4 separate regions of the Homo sapiens genome follow, and regions 1, 2 and 3 are each reported to be linked to region 4. Evidence: microRNA targets listed by miRTarBase, many of them from high-throughput screens and not tested one by one. Region 4 holds a microRNA gene; each other region holds the end of a gene's coding sequence.

Region 1 (3,000 bases), not on the chromosome of region 4:
AGGAGGCTGACTGGTCTCCGGATATGCTGGCCGACCGTTTCCTGCAGGCCTTGAGGGGACTTATCAGCTACTTAGAGGCTGGAGTCCTGCCCAGTGCCCTAAACCCCAAGGTGAACTTATTTGCAGAGCTCACCCCTGAAGAAATAGACGAATTAGGATACACTCTGTATTGCTCATTGTCTGAGCCAGAGGTGCTGCTGCAGACGTAGGGCAGGTGAAGGCCAAAGCGGGTGTTGGTGGTCAGGCCCTGGATTCTCCGTTAGATACACTTGGCTACCTAGTTGGTGCCTCACAGGGTTCCTGCTGCCTGGTGTCTTGCTGATCATCACCCTGGTCACTTCATGCTGATTAGAATGACATCTCTTTCGTCTCCTATTTTGTTACCCAACTCTTCCTATTTTTGTTACCAATCACTGTGCTCTCTGCCGCCCCCTGGCTCCAGGCTAATTTTTCTGGAATGAATTGAGAAGGTGGCGTGCTGGCCTGAGCTGATGGACCACTTGGTGTTTTGCGTTTTGGCCCATGTTTGCTGCCTCTATCTGGTCTGCCTTGCCCGTTTGCCTGTTCCTATTCAGTGTCTTTTCTATTTTTTCCTCTCTCGTTCATGCCTTCTGTTTTGCTCTTGTCCCTGGAGCATATCTGCCTAATTAAGATGTTGCCTTTTAGTTGAATGCCACTGAAGAGCTGTGATAGCATGTTTCAAAGCTGAACTCTACAGAGCGAGTGCTGAGACAGTATTTAGGGTTTCTGGGAGTGAGGCTGGTAGAAGAGTTGGCCTTTGACCACGGTTCCTGGAGTAGAAGTCCATCCTCCCCCCAACCTCCTGACCCATTCATAAATGCTGAGAATGTCTCTCATGGGAACACTGTTAATGACCCACACAGGATAAGCTGAATGCAAAGTTATTTGCAGGTTGAATTTCTTGGTGGCTATTAGCAGAAGTGCAGAGTAGGGAACCAGAGCTGGTTAAGGGCCTAGTGAAGGGTTTGTGTGCCCAGTGTCTGCTCGTCATCTGTGGCTGCAGGGGTCAGACAGACAAGGATGGGGACTGCCAGGGCACCACTTCATCATGAATGCTGGTTTTCACACCTTTTCCTTATTTTATTGCCAATCAGGACAAGGCCTTGAAGGAACGCAGCCTTAGACATCAGGTGAGGATGATGGAGGTAGACAGTCGACTGAATGTCAGCTGGAAAATCCAGTCACTAGTTGGGGTTTGGTGGCCATGTTTTCTACCCAGACAGGCCCTGCTTTTCTAGGATGTGGCCTTAGAGCAAGAACAGACCCAACAGCCAGCCCTTCATCCTCCAGCGTCTGCCATAGGAATGTGAGAGGGGTGTTTGCTGAGCGCTCCGGGCACGGCCAGAGGGCAAGTGAGCATGCACGGACCTCTTCCCCCTGTCCTGTTTCTCACCCAGCACCTGGGGAGATCGGTGCTACCAAGGAAGAGAGCACACAGATAAGACAGAGGGGAGGAGGTGGGCATTTCCTACATTCCTCCTTGTTTGCCGCTGCTGAGATTGCAGTATTTATTGCAATGTAAATGTATCCTGAAGGTGGGGAGGAATGTTTAATCTACCATGTCCGTGTGTCATCTTGGTTTGTGTTTTTCCCTGTTTGTAGCAAGACTCTGATGATAATTCTGTTTCTCATCTGCCCATTCAGTATTTTGTTTTCCTTCCGTCAAGTTGTCTTATTTTTTCAATGACTACCTCTCCATCATTGAGGTTCTGGTGAAGCTCTCTGCAGCTGTCTCATTCCTTCCCAACGATAGTAACAGGAAATGACTCTTTAGCATCGATACCTCAACATCAATTTAGGGTAGAGATTCCTGCCCCTCTTTTGTCACAGATTAGGAAATTGAGAACTAGGGTTAACCTTGACTATATTTAGAGGTCTTTTTGCCTCTTTTCCCCTTAACAAGGATTTCTTATGGTGGTTTCAGTTTCATTTGCATAAAGGTATTGAGAGGGAACAAAAAACATAAAGCTGAGAATCTTGAGAGAGCTCATCTACCCTGTCTGTTGGTCAGACTCAAATGAGAGTTAAAAAAAAAAAAAAAAATCTGTATGCCTGAGTACCATCCTGGATGAATCTAGAAGGTATGGGGTAGAGCTTGACAGGGTTCCTGTGTACCCACTGGGTATCCGTTAGAGGTAAGGGAGAGGAGAGGATTGATAGAGTGTTGCAAAAGTATAGATTATTCATTGAGATAAAGGATTTGGTTTCCCTGCCATGAGTATTAAAAAAATTTAAGTTTTCCCAAGCTTGCATCTCTGACCAAATTTCACATAAAACATTGGAAGGAGGCTGGGTGCGGTGGCTCATGCTTGTAATCCCAGCACTGGGAAGCTAAGGCGGGTGGATCACTTGAGGTCAGGAGTTCGAGACCAGCCTGGCCAACATGGTGAAACCCCGTCTCCACGAAAAAGATAAAAATAAGCTGGGCGTGGTGGCAGGCGCCTATAATCCCAGCTACTCGGGAGGCTGAGGCAGGAGAATAACTTAAACCCGGGAGGCGGAGGTTACAGTGAGCTGAGATCGTGCCACTGCACTCCAGCCTGGGTGACAGAGTGAGACCCTATTTCAAAAAAATAAAAATTGGAAGAAGAGCTTAAAAAAGATAAGATTTTAAAGAGTCCCAAGTTATTTAAGTTGAGTGTAATTGTCATTTAAGGAAGGCAAATGAGTTTATCATCCTTCTTAAAGAGCATCTCTTTTAACTGTTGGACAAAACCATAACTTTGTCATTTTACAAGGAAGAACCTCTTAAGAAGTCCTCAGAACCAGAAGCAATGTGAACTCTCAGCGCTGGTCCTGGTGGGTTTGCTGACCATGACTGGGCAAGCCGTTCTTTTTGCTGCCATCTTCCTCATCATAAAGTGTGGAACATAGGCAATTGCTTTGAGATTCTTGGATAGAAGAGGACAACATTCTGCACCTGCCCCCTTTTTTAAATCTTTGGGGAAAGATGAGTAACTTTCCCCACTACTCTGCCTT
Region 2 (3,093 bases), not on the chromosome of region 4:
GTGACAAATCAGCACAGGAACCTCCTAAAAAGTTGGAAAGGAAAAAAATTCTTCACCACTGTCTTGGGCATCTGTGATATGAAATGTAAACAAGCACAAAAATGGCTGATGAGCCCACAGAGTGCAGCCCGGATGGGACCACCTGTGAGACTCTCAGACCTGTCCAGTTCCACAGTCAGAATATTGGATTGCCACTGCCAGCCTCATTAGACACCCATCCTTCTTACGCTGGGAGGATATGGACAAGAGCATGCAGGGCACTCACCACAAATCCATCAGAACCATGCCAGAGACAGGCCAAACACATGCCCTGAAGTTACTAGTATCATCAGAGCACAGAAAAAAGTATATATATTTGAGACCAGGTCTCACTCTGTTACCCAGGCTGGAGTGCAGTGGTGCAATCAGGGCTCACCACTGCAGCCTTGACCTCCTGGACTCAAGTGATCCTCCCACCTCAGCCTCCTGAGTATATGGGACTACAGGTGTGTACCACCACACCTAATTATGTATTTTTTTGTAGAGACAGGGTCTCACTATGTTGCCCAGGCTGGTCTCAAACTCCCAGGCTCAAGCGATCCTCCCACTTTGACCTCCCAAGGTGCTGGGATTACAGGCATTAACCACAGTGCCCAGCCACACGTGACAATATTAAGCACAGAGTTGAAAGGGGCCTTGGAAATCATTTCTCAATTTCCTCTAATGAAAACAGACAAGTTAATGTATTAATAATTCAGGTTTTTCATTATGGTTCTCTTCTCCCTCTAGCCCCGTGGTTCTTAACCAGGGGTGATTTCCCCTCAGAGGACATTTGAGCATGACTGGAGACAATCTGATTGTCAAAACTGGGTGGGAGATGCTCCTGGCCTCTAGTGGGTATAGGCTCGGGATGTGGTTAAACATCCCACAGTATAGAAGACAGCCCTCCACAGCAAAGAGTTATCTAGTCTAACGTGTCAGTAGTGCCAAGGCTGAGAAACCATGGTCCATGCACAATATACTATTTCCAAAAACTAAACAAAATGACATTCTTACTCCACAAAGCAGTCATATCCACAAATCATATTTTATTAGCTGTGCAATACCACCTTCCATTCATGGCCTGTGTTTTAATTAAATTTCATAAACTACCAGTACAAATCAATACAATGCATTTTTTAACACACCAACAGCTTGAATGTTCTTGAAGCTTTTAAACAATGAGTTTACTGTGAGCAAACAGAAGCAAGGACTCAAAGAGATAATTAGCTCATGCATCTGGTGCTGGCTAATAATTTTCACATGAATGAAGAAACCACTCTATGTTAACTGTATTTATTTTTAAAAAATAGTTTGAAATGGTAATAAAATGCAATTTTCAGAAGCATCTTGGTGATCGAGTAGAACTGCTTAATTTAAAAAATAATTCAGTTACTTCCACCTGGCCTGGGGTGGATAACATGTAGCAAAAACTTCCATCCCACTAGATTCTGGCAGATGGATTGATCTTTCACAATATATATATATATATTTTTTTCTCCATTTCTTCTTATGGAAGCCAGAAGCCAGGAGGAGCACCCTGTTTTGAAAAGAGATTGTTTGGTTCACACGGTATACTTTGGTTTATTTAAACAGGTAAGAAAGCGGTCCCTACTTCTGAGGAGAAAATGTGGTTTCTGACTTTTAGGTACATCACGATATCACCAGTCTGAATGAGTTTCCTTTTCTGTAAAGCAGAAAGTGTCATTTTCTTTTCCTCCAGTGTTCAGTTGCTCCTCTTCGAAAATACTCTTCAGAGAAAGTATCTGTACGTCTGTATTAGTACAAACCATTCCTTCCCTATGTCTCAATGCCTGACATTCAGTGCCTGACAGAATCAGCATTTGGCATGTCCTTGGATATGGCATCAATTTGATGCTTTGAACTGAAAGTTCTCATAATGCATCTCAAAGTATCTTCTTAAAAAATATAAAAATGTAGGCCAACTTGTGCTCTCTTGTAAGGCTTGCAAAGTGGTAATTAAATAAGCAGACTATAACTCACAAGGGAAAAAAAGTGCATTTTTAAATAAAAGAAAAAAACGGAGACAGTTAAAAGGACAACCAAAAAGATAAGCAGATTATTTTTGGTTAATCTTGGGGAAAATATGACACGATATTTATGGTTTCTTTTCTTTTCTGGTCCATTTTATTTTACTTAATGTACTCACTAGTATCATAATAAGCCTATCTCCTCTCCTGCCTTCTGATATTTTAGCATTCCTAGAAACTAGAGCCCTGCTGATAGGCTCATTCATATGAGGAGAAATATGCTTGCCTTTCATGCTAATGAATTTTTTACAAAACTGCTCTTAAATCATGAATATTTCAATGAGCACACAAAACAACAGGTCTCAGTGTGTTGTAAACACCATCAAAACCTCCACACCATTAGGCTTATAATCTCACAAGCATTCTGCCTTTGTCAGACACTTCACAGGGTGCAACTGGGTTACTTTTGCAGGCAAAGCGGAGATTTTGATTTCTGTTGTAAAAAGCCCAACAGAGAGAAATCGGAGGCTTTCTCATCTCTGACCCATCAGTCCAATTCTTTTGTCGTCCTTTATGGAAGTCTTTTCTCTGTTGCAGCCACTTTCAGTAATTGCAAAAGGAAAGAAAAAGTGTCTCCCACAATCCTTCTCTGGGAGTTCATGTTTTTTTGCTACTTGTCTTCTGTTTCTGTTTGCGAAGGTGAGCCTCTATCTCGTGCCTGAACACCAGCATGCCCAGCTGGCCGTGGGATGCCTCGTTCATGGCCTTGGACTGCATGCACATCTTGTACTGCTCGGGGGTCAGCTCGTCCATGCAGCGCTTCTCATGCCAGAGGTGGAAGAGTCCTCGCACAGGCGTCCGTACCACTATGAGGTTGCTGTGGAGATACTTGCGATAAAGGTGCACATCCTCTCCGCCCCAGCCTTTGATGTCCAGATCAAACCCACCTGTCGGGACAGAACACACTGTTGAATCACACTGCACTGATCTGTTTTGCTTCCCTGAGTTGCAACAAGCACAAACTTTTCATTAAGACATGACTGGGGGGGATGCGTGCTTCACCACCACCCCTCCAAGGTACGAG
Region 3 (3,093 bases), not on the chromosome of region 4:
CTTAACTTTTTAAATATGCTCATGCTTAGGAAGTTATCAGATAATTGGCAGCCAGATATTGCTAGTTTCATAAGTTTCTTGAGAACAGGGTGGAGGGAGGAGCTCTAAATTGAAGGAACTGTGTGAAGCAATGTGACTTTCATACAGAACCACCAGGACTGGTTTTCAGGAAATCAGGATTCTAATCCAAGGGAACTCTCAACTCCTATATGTTCTTGGGCAATTCGCTGAACATCAACTTGCTCTTCTTTGCAATGGGGGGCTCAGAGAGCTTGCCTACATGGGTGAGTAGACTCCTGAAAAAAAGGTGAGGTAAGTACTAAGAGTTGGCAGTTTCATTCTATGAAGAAAACTGAGCAATAGATGAAAACCCTTCAATGTTCACTTATCACCTACTTGATGCCTGAGAGACTGTGCAAGGTAATTATCTCAAGGTTGGGTTTTTTTTTTTTTCCTTCAGGGATGCTTGAGTGTTATCAGCACTTGATAATTATAAGGCTCTGTATTAGTATTCTTTATTGCCTGTGTATGTGAATTTTAAGCATCTCCATGTTTCACTGCTATTAATTGCTTTGCAAATTTAAATTCATGGTTCAGTAGAACTGGGAGGAAGTAGAACAAATGGAGTTAAAATGTTTTAAGGGTTAGAAGATACAAAATGAACCAAAAGGCAGAGGCTCTGAACATTAGAAACATTATGATACTTAAGCTAAAATCCACAGGCTGGAAATGGTTCAAGAGTTTTGGAATGTTTAGGAATGCAGTGGGTTGCTACATCAAAGAACTCTAAGAACTGGGACAAAAAGGAACAACTTAATTTTAAGGCCCGTGGAAAGAATAAACAGAACAAAGGGAGAAGTGTTGTAGGCAGCTTGAACTGGAACTGGGCTTTGCATTTAATGGGGGCAGGAGGTGGAAAACAGAACCTGGATCAAATCTGGTTCAGCTGATTTTTCCTCCCTTTATTCTTTAGGCCTAATTTTGTTAGCACACAATAAAAACCTACATGAGTTTTCCTTACCTCTGAAATATTAACATGCCTTTAATTTTCCCTTCTTTGATTTGTAGAATTTTGACATTGCTTTGCTCTTTTGATACTGGACATTATAGAAGGACTAAACAAAATCAACGGCAGTTAACAGAGTAACTATTAACCACACCAGGCTTTAACTTGTGTTATCAAATTTAGTCCTTAGGAAACCCTGAGATATGGCCGGGCAGAGCGGCTCATGCCTATAATCTCAGCACTTTGGGAGGCCAAGGCGGGTGAACCGCTTGAGCTGAGGAGTTGGAGACCAGTCTGGGCAACATGGTGAAACCCCGTCTCTACTAAAAATACAAAAATAAACCAAACATGGTGGTACGCGCCTGTAGTCCCAGCCACTCGGGAGGCTGAGGTAAAAGGATTGATCACCTGAGCCTGGGAGGATGAGGTTGCAGTGAGCCAAGATCACGCCACTGCACTCCCCCTGGGTGACAGAGAGATTGTCTCAAAAAACAAACCAACCAACCAACCCTGAGATAATTACCTCACATAGTCACTCAGCCAGTAAGTGAGATAGCTGAGACTTGACTTCAAAGACCTTTTTGCTACTATGTCCGCTTTCTAGTGTGCCAAAGTCAAAATATATCAAGAGCCCATAAGAGAGATTATTAGACAAGGCCAAGATAAACATCTTGAAACAGGAAGCCAAAGTTACCATCTTTCATCTCCTTAATGCTTTTGCCACCTAAAACAAGATATGGGTGTTATAGTGATGGTAGGGAACAGAACTGGGGACCCTGAGAAAAATCTCCAAAATAAGGTTCTTTTGCCCTTAACTAAATCTTAGAATCTTCTGAGCTCCATTTAAATCATGGAATTGCCCACTATACTTTCACGTTGGTAAGAATGATTATGCTTATAAACTCTCCTTATGTTCTGTAAACCAAATTAATGATTTTATCCTAAGTTGCCTTAAAAAAAATTTAAAAAAAAAAACCTAAGCACTGCCTTCATATGAGTGCAGATACTTAATTATAACTTTCATTATAGTGAAGCTATTTATTATACTGAGATTACATTAATGAATTAACAAGAGCCTTAAGCCATAGTTTTGACACTTAAGTATTAGCATTTTATTTCAAGCACTTATGCTCATCCTTGAGTTTAAAAAGTCTAACAAAATCTAAGAACCCGGGTTCCTTTAAACATGTTTACCTACTTGTGGAGACACCAACAGGAACCAGCAAACCATTGTTTATTTATTTACATAATGTATCTCCCATGGAGACCTATTTGGCTTACCACTCTTCATAGGCCTAGTACAATCTCATAGAGCACCCTAGGATTTCACTGATCAATACCTAATGGCACCTAAAAGTACCTATGCTTCTTTTCTTGTTCCATGAATCCGTGAAAGTCTGCAGATCCTCCCAGCTCTAGAAGCAGTCATGTTTTTTACCAAAATCAGCATTTTGCTTTATGGAAACACAGGCAACATCTGATAGCGAAGAGGGCATTAAGATTTGACTTAACCAAAATTGCCTGACAACGAAAAAGTCATTTCATCATTCTGCTTGGCAATGTAGTCTTCAGAAATCAACTGTGATAAAAAGCAGGAAATAACTGTTAAAATTTTAGCAACTCCTAAAAGGCTGGAAGGTGGGTTTAACAGTTTATTAGGATTTATAAGTGTCATTTTAAAAACAGTCGATTTAAACCATGTAGAAATAAGTATGCAAAAAGTCTGCAAAACAAAACATACTTTAAACATGTTTAAGTAGATAGATTATCTGAAATTCTGGATTTTTCAGTCACTTCATTGTTATGCTATGGCAGCCAAGTAATCCTTAACTTCAGTTGGAGTAAGCCTCCTAAATCCAGCTTCATTGCAGATTCCAACTTCTATGTTATCCTCTGTCATTTGCCCTTCAAAGCTTTCCTATTGAGGAGGGAGGAAAAAAGGTCAATTTTCTAAGCAGTTAATCATGAAATCATTATAAATCCAGTTGTTGAATACTGAGCTAACCTTTAGGGTTAAGATGGCTGTATGAATGGCATCTTCAAGTTCCAGATCTTCATTATATCTGAAGAATTTAAAAAAAATTACT
Region 4 (3,093 bases):
CGCGATCTCGGTCACTGCAACATCCGCCTCCAGGGTTCAAGCGATTCTTCTGCCTCTGCCTCCAGAGTAGCTGGGATTACAGGCGCGCATCACCACACCCGGCTAATTTTTGTATTTTTAGTAGAGACGGGGTTTCACCATGTTGGTCAGGCTGATCTCGAACTCCTGACCTCAAGTGATCCGCTCTCCTCAGCCTCCCAAAGTGCTGGGATTACAGGCGTAAGCCACTGAGCCCGGCCAGGAGACCTCTTTAAGAAGACTCGAGATGTCGACAATCCCAGTGGATGGATACCAACTTTAAAAAGAAAAGTTCAAAAGGCCTATGTGCCCATTAGCTGGGAGGGGCCAAGAAATATGGGAGTCCCTTATAGTGGGGGTAAAACGGCGGGTAAAGCTAGGTGGGCGGAACAGCAGCTTCTGGGGGAGACAAGCGGCAAAGAGGCTCACGACCGACTAGGGGCGACCAAGGCTGATAGCCGTTGGGGCCGTTGGGCGCCGGGAGCTGGCGCCCCGCCCTCTCTCCTCTCCCCCACCCTCCGCACCTCCCACCACCCTCGGTGTCCCCTGCGCGTGCGCGTGCAGACACCGGTTGCCAAACATTGCATCATCCCCGCCCCCCTTTCCTCCCCTCCCCCCCCGCTACACTCCCCTCCGCGCGCGCGCATGACTCACCCACCTCCTCCGTGAAGCCTCGTGACCCAAAGCCACTTCCGGGTCCGACACTACGTCGACCCCCTAGCGAGAGGGAGCGACGGGGGCGGTGCCGCGGGGCTCCTGAGTGGCGGATGCGAGGGACGGGGCGGGGCCAATGCCGGCGTGCCACTTTCTGATTGGTAGGTTTTGGGGTCCCGCCCCTGAGAGGAGGGCAAGGCCATGGTAAAAGATTACAGCCAGGCGCTCCCGAGGTCAGAGACTTAAGTCTAAGGCACTGAGCGTATCATGTTAAAGATGAGCGGGTGGCAGCGACAGAGCCAAAATCAGAGCTGGAACCTGAGGAGAGAGGCGAGTACTGATTCCCATCTACCTTTTACCCTCCCGTCTCCTCAAAGTTGGGGCGTCCGCTCTTTAGGATCGGCCTCACTCCTCCACAGTGAAGTTAGGGACCGTCCGAGAGAGGAATGGGGAGAGTCCCTTATTCTGGGGTGGTGCTTACAAACCCCTATTGCTTCGGACGACGGCGTCTCTCCACCCCTGCCCGGAGCCGGAACACGGGCCCTGCTCTGTGCTGCTGGGCAAAGGGACCTCGGTTGCCCTTGGGAAATTCATTCTTTCCCGTAGCCAACTTCAGGCCTCATCGTTAGGCCTGTCCGCGGGGAGGCAGGTCAGCAGGACACACCCCCGCTCTAAGACTGGGTGACCATCGCTCAGGCCGTTTCCGCCGCTTCGCCACCAGCGGGCCTTCTCCCTACCCCACCCCCAATTCTGTCTCAGTCTCAGTGCCTCTGGTGTCAGCATGGCCACCTTGGTAGCTGGGGCTACTGGACCCTGCAGCGGATAGGGGAACCTTGAGGAGACACAAGCCTTTGGGAGGGGTGCCGATGGACAGGGAGTGGTGTGTTTTCCTTTTGCCGTAGAGGTCTCTGGGCCTCCTGCACAAGAGAGCAGCCTGGATCTCTTAAGTGTAGGAGGCCATTTGGGGTCTCCCCAGGGTATTGTCCTTCCCTCGGGATTAGTCCCTGCCTCTTTAACCCGGTCCTGTCTCCCAGCTAATCTCTGTGTAACCATTGCATCAGGCCAGCCCCGTTTGGCTCTGCAGCCTTCTGACCTGAGGCTCTACTGCTGATGAAAGCCAAGTCCCACACACTGGAAGGCAAGGGAGGGTTCCCCAGGGAGGACAGCCCTGCAGAGAAATACTTCGGGCAATATTGCATCTCTAGCCCCTAGGGATCAGCAGCTGCCACTCTGCTTCTGCCCCTTCCCTATAAGAGAGACTGGGGGGAGTTTATCCATTCATTCTTAACAAATACTTAATGAGGACCTACTGTGTGCCACACAGTTTGGGGCTCAGGGTACATCCTTGAGCAAGAGGAAAAAATCATCTCAGTGGGAGGCCTACAGTAAACAAAATATAAGTGCCACGGAGAAAGCTAAAGCAGAGAAAGGAATGGAGAATGTTCAGGATGGAGGTCAGAGTGTTACATCAGGTGGTCAGGAATTACCTTAGGTAATTCCTCCACTCAAAACCCTTCAGTGACTTCCATGACATGAAATAGGAAGTCATTGGAGGGTTTGAGCAGAGGAATGACCTGTTTTAAAAGGCTCACTCAGGCTGCTGTATGGTGAATAGAGTTGCGGAGGGGTGGCAAGAGAAGAAATGGGAAGACCTTCTGCAGTCAGAAAGTTTCTGCAGTAATTTAGAGATGGTAGTGAATTGATCTAGATTGGAAACAATGGAATTAGAAGTGTTTAGATTCTTCTAAGCAAAGGTTTTAAAAACTCATTTTTAAAGAATGAGTTAAGGGCCGGGCATGGTGGCTCACACCTGTAATCCCAGCACTTTGGGAGACCAGAGGTGGGTGGATCACCTGAGGTCAGGAGTTCAAGACCAGCCTGGCCAACATGGTGAAATCCCATCTTTACTAAAAATACAAAAATTAGCCGGGCATGGCAGTGCATGCCTGTAATCCCAGCTACTCCGGAGGCTGAAGCAGGAGAATCGCTTGAACCCAGCAGGCGGAGGTTGCAGTGAGCCGATTGCGCCACTGCCTTCCAGCCTGGGCAAAAAGAGTGAGACCCGTCTCAGAAAAAAAGGAATGAGTTAAAATTTGCTAGTACTTTGGATTGCAGGGTGTGAGAGAAGAGGAATGAAGGATGATACCAAGGTTTTTAGCTTAAGCAACTAGAGTTGTCATCTGAGATGGGGATGACCTTGGAAGGGGAAAATCAGCAAGAGTTTGCCTTTGCACATAGTCTTAGGTGCCTATTAGACATTGAAAAAGAAATGGCAAGTAGGCAGTAGACAGCAGAGTCTGAAGTTCTGGAAGAGGTCCAGACTGGAAATGTACATTTGGAGGATGTCAGCCCTGTGGGAATGGAGTTAGGAAAATGCTATGATTTGTTCCCTTCCCTGTAGTTTAGTTTTTACCCTGGCAG

The links. The annotated mature microRNA hsa-miR-616-3p reads AGUCAUUGGAGGGUUUGAGCAG and lies in region 4 at 2,216-2,237, shown strand. An mRNA with a match to its seed (bases 2 to 7 or 8) in the 3' UTR can be bound and repressed. Matches are read on the target gene's strand: a 7mer-m8 pairs with bases 2 to 8, a 7mer-A1 pairs with bases 2 to 7 and ends in A, and an 8mer does both.
Region 1: miRTarBase lists MIEF1 as a target of hsa-miR-616-3p. Seed matches in the 3' UTR shown: 7mer-A1 at 353-359 and 7mer-m8 at 1,703-1,709.
Region 2: miRTarBase lists CSGALNACT1 as a target of hsa-miR-616-3p. Seed matches in the 3' UTR shown: 7mer-A1 at 1,721-1,727.
Region 3: the mRNA of PSMA2 is a reported target of hsa-miR-616-3p. Seed matches in the 3' UTR shown: 7mer-A1 at 2,676-2,682.

The regions. Positions count from the first base shown.
Region 1 is chr22:39,514,115-39,517,114 of GRCh38, forward strand. MIEF1 (mitochondrial elongation factor 1) reads left to right here. Exons shown (of 6, transcript NM_019008.6): 6 at 1-3,000. The coding sequence ends at 209. Among named protein-coding and RNA genes, the nearest start is that of ATF4, 4.9 kb to the right of the region's middle.
Region 2 is chr8:19,403,114-19,406,206 of GRCh38, forward strand. CSGALNACT1 (chondroitin sulfate N-acetylgalactosaminyltransferase 1) reads right to left here. Exons shown (of 9, transcript NM_001354483.2): 9 at 1,048-2,956. The coding sequence ends at 2,667. Among named protein-coding and RNA genes, the nearest start is that of SH2D4A, 91 kb to the left of the region's middle. RefSeq lists enhancers at 2,348-2,848, 2,849-3,093.
Region 3 is chr7:42,914,767-42,917,859 of GRCh38, forward strand. It overlaps PSMA2 (proteasome 20S subunit alpha 2), which reads right to left. Exons shown (of 8, transcript NM_002787.5): 7 at 3,012-3,069; 8 at 2,095-2,924. The coding sequence ends at 2,808. Among named protein-coding and RNA genes, the nearest start is that of C7orf25, 4.2 kb to the left of the region's middle.
Region 4 is chr12:57,518,327-57,521,419 of GRCh38, reverse strand. MIR616 (microRNA 616) reads left to right here and starts at 2,161; the gene lies at 2,161-2,257. It overlaps DDIT3 (DNA damage inducible transcript 3), which reads left to right and starts at 906. Exons shown (of 4, transcript NM_004083.6): 1 at 906-1,002. LOC128125814 reads left to right here and starts at 940. Exons shown (of 2, transcript NM_001414991.1): 1 at 940-1,002. The coding sequence starts at 940. It also overlaps a transcript of MBD6 not described here. RefSeq lists enhancers at 1-148, 149-1,108, 1-1,134, 1,009-1,138, 1,109-2,070 and a silencer at 479-938.